Homo sapiens: one gene and its partner. The protein of the gene in region 1 purifies or fractionates together with the protein of each later gene. This does not show direct contact. Each region holds a gene or a part of one and is shown on either strand. Other genes may lie near its edges.

Region 1 (3,500 bases):
TTCTTTTACCCAGGTTATTGAAAGGAATATGGAAATAGATCACACAAAGAAAGTAAATGAGTCTAAAAATATATACTAAATCAATAGAACTTAATCACTGTGAGAGTTGACAGTCTCAAACATTCTATCCCTAAATCTCTGCATAAGAAGTCTTTATTAAACACACTGTTTCTAATGATGGTTCTGTTTTATTATTCCATTCTGTATTTCAATATGCTCTGTAACTATATTATTATAATGAATACAAAATTTTTATCCCTATGTTGTATGCCTTTTCCTTAGTGGCATCCATATACAGATAATATGTCCTGATGTAGGCTGACTGCTTCCATTCCATGTAATGAATGTGAACAGTGCTTGATACCTAATAACTATAAAATCAATGGCAGCATTATTATTAGTCTATTTTTCTTCAATATAAATAAAGCTGTCACATGTAAATTTATGTATATGATACCTTCCTGCCTCCCACTTCTTTATCCCCATGTTTTAGGTTGTTTCCTTATGGTAGATCCTCCAAAATAGGTTTTTAGGAATAAAATATCAAAAGGTGTGGACATGGACATTTTGTAGAATAAAGCATATTGTCAATTATTTTTCAAAAGGATAGTGCCAAGTGTTAGTGCTTCCATAGTTCATGAAAACGTCATTTGCGCTATATCATTGCAAACATTACTAAATTTCTGGCCCACCAGCCACACTTATGTCAAAAACGGAGACACTATAAAATTTAAAACAAACATACCAGCCGGCGCAGTGGCTCATGCTTGTAATCCCAGCAACTTTGGGAGGCTGAGGCGGGTGGATTGCCCGAGCCCAGGAGTTTGAAACCAGCCTGGGCAATGTGGCGAAACCCCATCTCTACTAAAAATACAAAAAAGTAGCCAGACGTGGTGGCAGGCACCTGTAATCCCAGCTACTCAGGAGGCTGAGGCAGGAGAATTGATTGAACCCGGGAGGCGGAGGTTGCATGAGCCAAGATCGTGCCACTGCACTCCAGCCTGGGCAATGGAGCAAGACTCTGTCTCAAAAAAAAAAAAAAAAAATCAAATTTTGTATATTCAAATTGGTCACCTTTGTGTACTTTATTTTATTGATTCCATTAATCAAAACATTTTTGGATCTCCTTTCTTGAAATTGCCTTTAGAACAATTTCAAGTAACAAGCATGTTATTACAGACAGATTTATTACTATTTCTGAGCATACATACATATACACATATATGATTTTAGATAGAGCCATATACCTAGAAATAGTAAATTTGTTTGTGTGTATATGTATGTGTCTACTCATTTTAAATAAACTTGTGATAGAGATGTAATTTTGAGCCAGTTTTTCATTTGCTTAAATAACTCACCAAGTAACTAATTTAGTTTTCTTTACTCTTAATGTTAAGTAGTGAGATTCTGTTGAAGGTGATATTAAAAACAATTCTTTATAATTGACATTCATGTTATTTTTTAAAAGCTTATTTGAAATCAAATTAATGATTATTTTTCATACCAGTTTTATTTTATGTATGTGATTAAAAACAGGCTTCCCTGGTGGGCATTTGTTAATTTGTTAATATATATCTGACTGCTCCATGGGGTGAAAGCCCTTTATCTTCCTACTTGGTATGCATTGACCAGTCCACAGGTTCTACTTGTTTGCATGTGGTTTCTCAGACATGCTAATGTTGCTTTACCCAGTAGGGCCTGGAATTTTTATCAGGAGGGAAAAAGGCCTTTAAAATGAAGTTCTAAATTGATAAGCGGTTACATTTCACTGTGTCCATGTTTATATTTATCTATAGTCTCTCTTTACTCCAATCTACCTACTTACAATCTTGAGATTTTATCTTAAAAATGGAAAGGCAACAGGTCAAATATGCACACATACGTACATACGCATACACACATCCTAATTACACACAGTAACCAAATAAAAACAGTTAAAATGACTGCTGGACAGATATAAAATCCAATATTATAGGAGATAGGACTCTCATATAAAGACTGAGTGACAAGCTGTGAAAATTTATGTACAGGCATACCTCGTTTTATTGTGTTTTGCTTTATTTCATTTCACATACATTGCATTTTTTAAAAATTGAAGGTTTGTGGCAACTTTGCATTGAGCAATCCTATTGGTGCCATTTTTTTCTGACAGCATGTTCTCACTTCCTGTCTCTGTGTTACATTTTGGTAATTATTGTGATATTTCAAGCTTTTTCATTATTACATCTGTTAATGATGATTTGTGATCAGTGATCTTTGATGTTACTGTTGTACTTTGGGTTGCCACAAACCAAGCGCATATAAAATGGCGAACTTAATTGATAAATGTTGTGTGTGTTCTGACTGCTCCCCACCAACCAGCCATTCCCCCAACTCTCTCTCTCTTCTTGGGCCTCCCTTTTACCAGAGACCCAACAATATTGAAGTTAGGTCAATTAATAACCCTACAATGGCCTCAAAGTGTTTAAGTGAAAGAGTCACATGTCTCTCACTTTGAATCAAAAGCTAGAAATGAGGAAGGCATATAGAAAGCCAAGAGGCTGGGTGTGGTGGCTCACACCTGTAATCCCAGCACTTTGGGAGGCTGAGGTGGGCAGATCACCTCCAGTCAGGAGTTCAAGACCAGCCTGGCCAACATGATGAAACCCCGTCTCTACCAAAAAATACAAAAATTAGCTGGGCGTGGTGGCGGGTGCCTGTAATCCCAGCTACCCGAGAGGCTGAGGGAGGGACAATTGCTTGAACCCAGGAGGTGGAGGTTGCAGTGAGCCAAGATCATGCTACTGCACTCCAGCCTGGGTGATATAGTGAGATTCCGTGTCAAAAAAAAAAAAAAAGAAAGAAAGAAAAGGAAAGCCAAGATAAGCTGGAAACTAGGCCTTTTTCATCAAACAGCCAAGTTATGTATGCAAAGGAAAAGTTCTTTTTTTTGAGAAGGAGTCTCATTCTGTTGCCCAGGCTGGAGTGCAGTGGCACAATCTCAGCTCACTGCAAGCTCCGCCTCCCGGGTTCACGCCATTCTCCTGCCTCACCCTCCCGAGTAGCTGGGACTACAGGCGCCTGCCACCACGCCCAGCTAACTTTTTGTATTTTTAGTAGAGACGGGGTTTCACCGTGTTGGTCAGGATGGTCCCGATCTCCTGACCTCGTGATCTGTCTGCCTCAGCCTCCCAAAGTGCTGGGATTACAGATGTGAGCCACTGCACCTGGCTGGAAAAGTTCTTAATGGAAATTAAAAGTGCTACTCTTACGAATGCTCTAATGATAAGGTAGTAAAACAGACTTATTGCTGATAGGGAGAACGTTTTAGTGTTCTGTATAGAAGATCAAACCTGCCACAATATTCCCTTAAGCTAAAGTCTAATCCAGGGCAAGGCTCGAACTCTCTTCAAGTCTATGAAGGCTGACAGGGGTGAGGAAGCTGCAGAAAAATTGTTCCAAGCTAGCCGAGGTTGGTTCATGAGGTTTAAGGAAAAAAGTTGTCTCTATAACATAAATGT
Region 2 (3,500 bases), on another chromosome or scaffold:
ACACACACACACACACGCTCAAAAATAGAGACCTGGATAGAATCTGGGGACTGGAAGAGTCATCCAAGGTTAAAGCAGAGTTTGGGGTAACCTGGGGACTCCCTCTATGGGAATAAGATGCCCAGTGATGATTCAGACAGTTAGTTAAGAAGCATTTTAGGGAGCACTGGTTAAGTACTAGGTAGTATGCTAGGCACCAAAGATACCACACAACGGCTACCCTCATGGCATCTGCAGAAAAAACAGAAAAGAAAGGATGCTGCCTAGGGCCTGTGCAGGAGGAGGTCTCCTTGTGCTGGTGCTCTGGTCCTCAGGCAAAGCCCTCATTGGATTTCCTACTGATTTCAGGCTGCACAACCTATTGAAAACCTAACAGAATGTGTTTACACATACTTTTTAAAAGTATTTTATTTTTGAAATGATTGTAGGGCTTTCCTCAAATGTTGTTCTTTGTTCCATGACAGTGAGTGGAGATTTTAGATGCTTACAAATGTTTACATGAGGATTTCATCTCTTCTCCTGGACTCATGGCTGGAACATAATTATGAACTGTGCTTGTTAACCAAATAGAGATATTCCATGAGACAAGAAGGCTGATTCCTAATATGGAGGTGTCCTTGGGCCGGGGCCCACTTATCCTGGTATCCATCTCCTCCTCCCGACACAGAGGTGCCTTCATTAGTAGAGGAAAGAAAGAGGTCTTTGTGATGATGTAATTCCCAGACCACCCTACACAGACAATAAAACTGAATTTGAGAGAAGCTGGGTGAAATAAGAGCTCAGAAATCATAGAATACCAGTGCAGCAGGGACCTAAGAGGTTATTTAGTCTAATCTTTTAATGTTAGAAATGGGCAAATAACACCAAAAGGGGAAGAGATCTGTCTAAGATTACATGGCCAGTTAATGGTGGGCTATTTTCATCAAGGTAAATATGGGGAAATTCATTCCACAGAAATTCTAATAACTGTGTGTTTGATGATATTATGGTAGGCAAGAGGGCTGTCACCATAGTGTGTGACAAGCAGCTGCAATGCAACATGACCAGTGCTAGCACAGAGTATAGACAAGGCACTGTGGGATCACAGAGGAGGAAGCATCTCACTCTTCCTGTGGGCACTGTGGAAGGCTTCATGCAGAAGAGGACTTCTGAGTTGGGTCTTTATGAATGAACAGAAGTTGGTTGTATAGGAAACGGAAAAGGTATTTCCAGAATATGGAACAGCATGTAAAGGCATAAACATGTGAAAGAAAATGACATGTTTGGGGGATTAAGAGTGGTTTCCTATGGTAAAAATGGAGATTTATTGGAAGGGAAATAGAGGAGACAGCAAAAAGGTAAGGGAAGGAGTAGCTGTGAAGGCCTTGGATGGCATGTTAAGAAGTTTGTCCTGGAGAGAAGTTATCTTTGTGCTTTAAAAAACAATGTAGTGGCAAAAGGATGAAGAATGGGCTGAACAAAAATGGACCCATGATAGGAAGCCTAGCTGGGTGGATAACACAGTATTTCAGGTGGAAAATAAGAGTAAAAATTTTGAAAATGAACGAACAATCCAGAGCACTTGTGAAGGCTGAATTAAAGCAGTGATATTTAGATATTTAGTGATGGTAGACTCAGCAGGATTTCATAAAAGATGATTAGACATGGGGAATAAAATGGAGGATGGGGCAGCAAACTACTGCCCTTGGGTCATGTGCAGGCTGCCATCTATTTTGTACAGCCCAAGTGCTAAGAATGGTTTTTACATTCTCATGTACACGTACATGCTTCCTTCAATAGCTGAGAAGAAACAAAAGAAGCATCTTTTGTAACACATGAAAATAATGGGAAATTCAAATTTCAGTGACCATAACTAAAATTATATGGGAACATAGCCACACTTGTTAATTGACCTATTGTCTCTGGCAGCAAAGGCAGAGCTGAATAGTGCAAACCAGGTCATAGGTCTCATAAAGCCTTAGATAGTTACTATTTGGCCCTTTCAGAAAAAGTTGCTGACCTCCTCCAGGATTCTCCAACTCAGTTAAAATCAGTTCATCTTTTTAGTTGCCCAGACCAAAACCTTTGGGGTCATCTTAATTCTACTCTTAGCTGCCAACCGATCTTTCATCAAGATCTGCTGTATTTTAAAAATATATCCAGAATTTGACCCTCACTCCTTCCCTTGCTACCACTCTGTTCCTCAGCACTACCATCTCTCAGCTGGGTCATTCTGGTAGCCTTTATTTATTTATTATTTATTGAGACAGGGTCTTGCTCTGTCACACAGACTGGAGTGCAGTGGTGTGATCATGGCTCACTGCAGTCCCAAACTCCTGGGCTAAAGCGTTCCTTCCATGTCAGCCTCCTGAGTAGCTGGGGCTACAGGTGTGCACCACCACCCATGGCTAATTTTTTTGTAGAGATGGGGTTTCGCCATGTTGCCCAGGCTGGTCTTGAACTCCTGAGCTCAAGCAAACCACCCACTTCGCCTCCCAAAGTGCTGGGATTACAGGCGTGAGCCACCATGCCCAGCCTCATTCTAGAAACCTTTTGCCTCATCTCCCTGCTTCATCTCTGCCTGCTTCAGTCACTTAACACCATCTGAGTGATGGTGTTTTAGCACCATCAGTTAAAACAGAAGTGAGATCACGCCATTCCTCTGCACAAAGTCTTCCCGAGCCTTCCCATCTAACTCTGAGTAAAGGCCCAAGTTTTACAATGGCTTCCAGGGCCCTACAAAACCTGCCTCTGCCCTTCCTCTTGTTACACCCGGGACCAACCCCCGTTCCACAATCATGCTCACTCTCTTCTCCAGTCACATCAACCTCCTTCTTGGTCCTCAATAATGTACCAGGTCCACACCTGCCCCAAGGTCTTTGCATCTGTCATTCCTTCCACCTGTAATGTTATTTTCCAAGATATACATATGGTTCTCTTCCTCACTTCCTTCAGATTGGGACTCAAATCTACCCTTCTTAGTGAGGCCTTCTCTAGCCATCCTACTTAATACTGACAACCATCCTCAGACCACAACCCTCTATTTCTCTTTTTCTTGCTTTATTCTGCTCTCTAGCACTTACTACCACTCAAACAAAATACAAACATTACCAATTTATCTTGTTTATTACCTGTCTCCCCTGTTAGAATGTAAGCTCCAGGAAGGCAAGAGTTTTTGTTTTGTTTTCCTTTCTAGAACCTAGTACAGTGCATGGTACGTGTTAGGCACTCAATAAATAGTTGCTGAAAGAATGGAAATAATGGATCAGAAAGTGACTGGGAGATAAGAAAAGACAAGCAGGTAGAGATAACTCTTTCAAGGCATCTGGTGAGTAGCTAAAGAGGAAACCAGTATCAGGAGACTTTCTCCAAATAGGAAAGACTCAAGCATATTTACAGAACGTCAGGGCGACAGAGTGGCAAAAAAAGATGGGATATGAGAAATAGCATATCTGGCTATGCCAAGTCTGGGAGGAAGCTGAAAGAAATGGCCTTATGAGCAAGGAGAGAAGGGACCTCCT

The links.
Region 2: the proteins of DPH5 (region 1) and PARVA fractionate together in Homo sapiens (co-fractionation; one large-scale study listed by BioGRID). This does not show direct contact.

Annotation. Positions count from the first base shown.
Region 1 is NC_000001.11:101,015,785-101,019,284, reverse strand, and holds part of DPH5 (diphthine methyl ester synthase), read left to right. Parts: intron 1-3,500. UniProt on the Homo sapiens protein: S-adenosyl-L-methionine-dependent methyltransferase that catalyzes four methylations of the modified target histidine residue in translation elongation factor 2 (EF-2), to form an intermediate called diphthine methyl ester.
Region 2 is NC_000011.10:12,384,071-12,387,570, reverse strand, and holds part of PARVA (alpha-parvin), read right to left. Parts: intron 1-3,500. UniProt on the Homo sapiens protein: Plays a role in sarcomere organization and in smooth muscle cell contraction. Required for normal development of the embryonic cardiovascular system, and for normal septation of the heart outflow tract.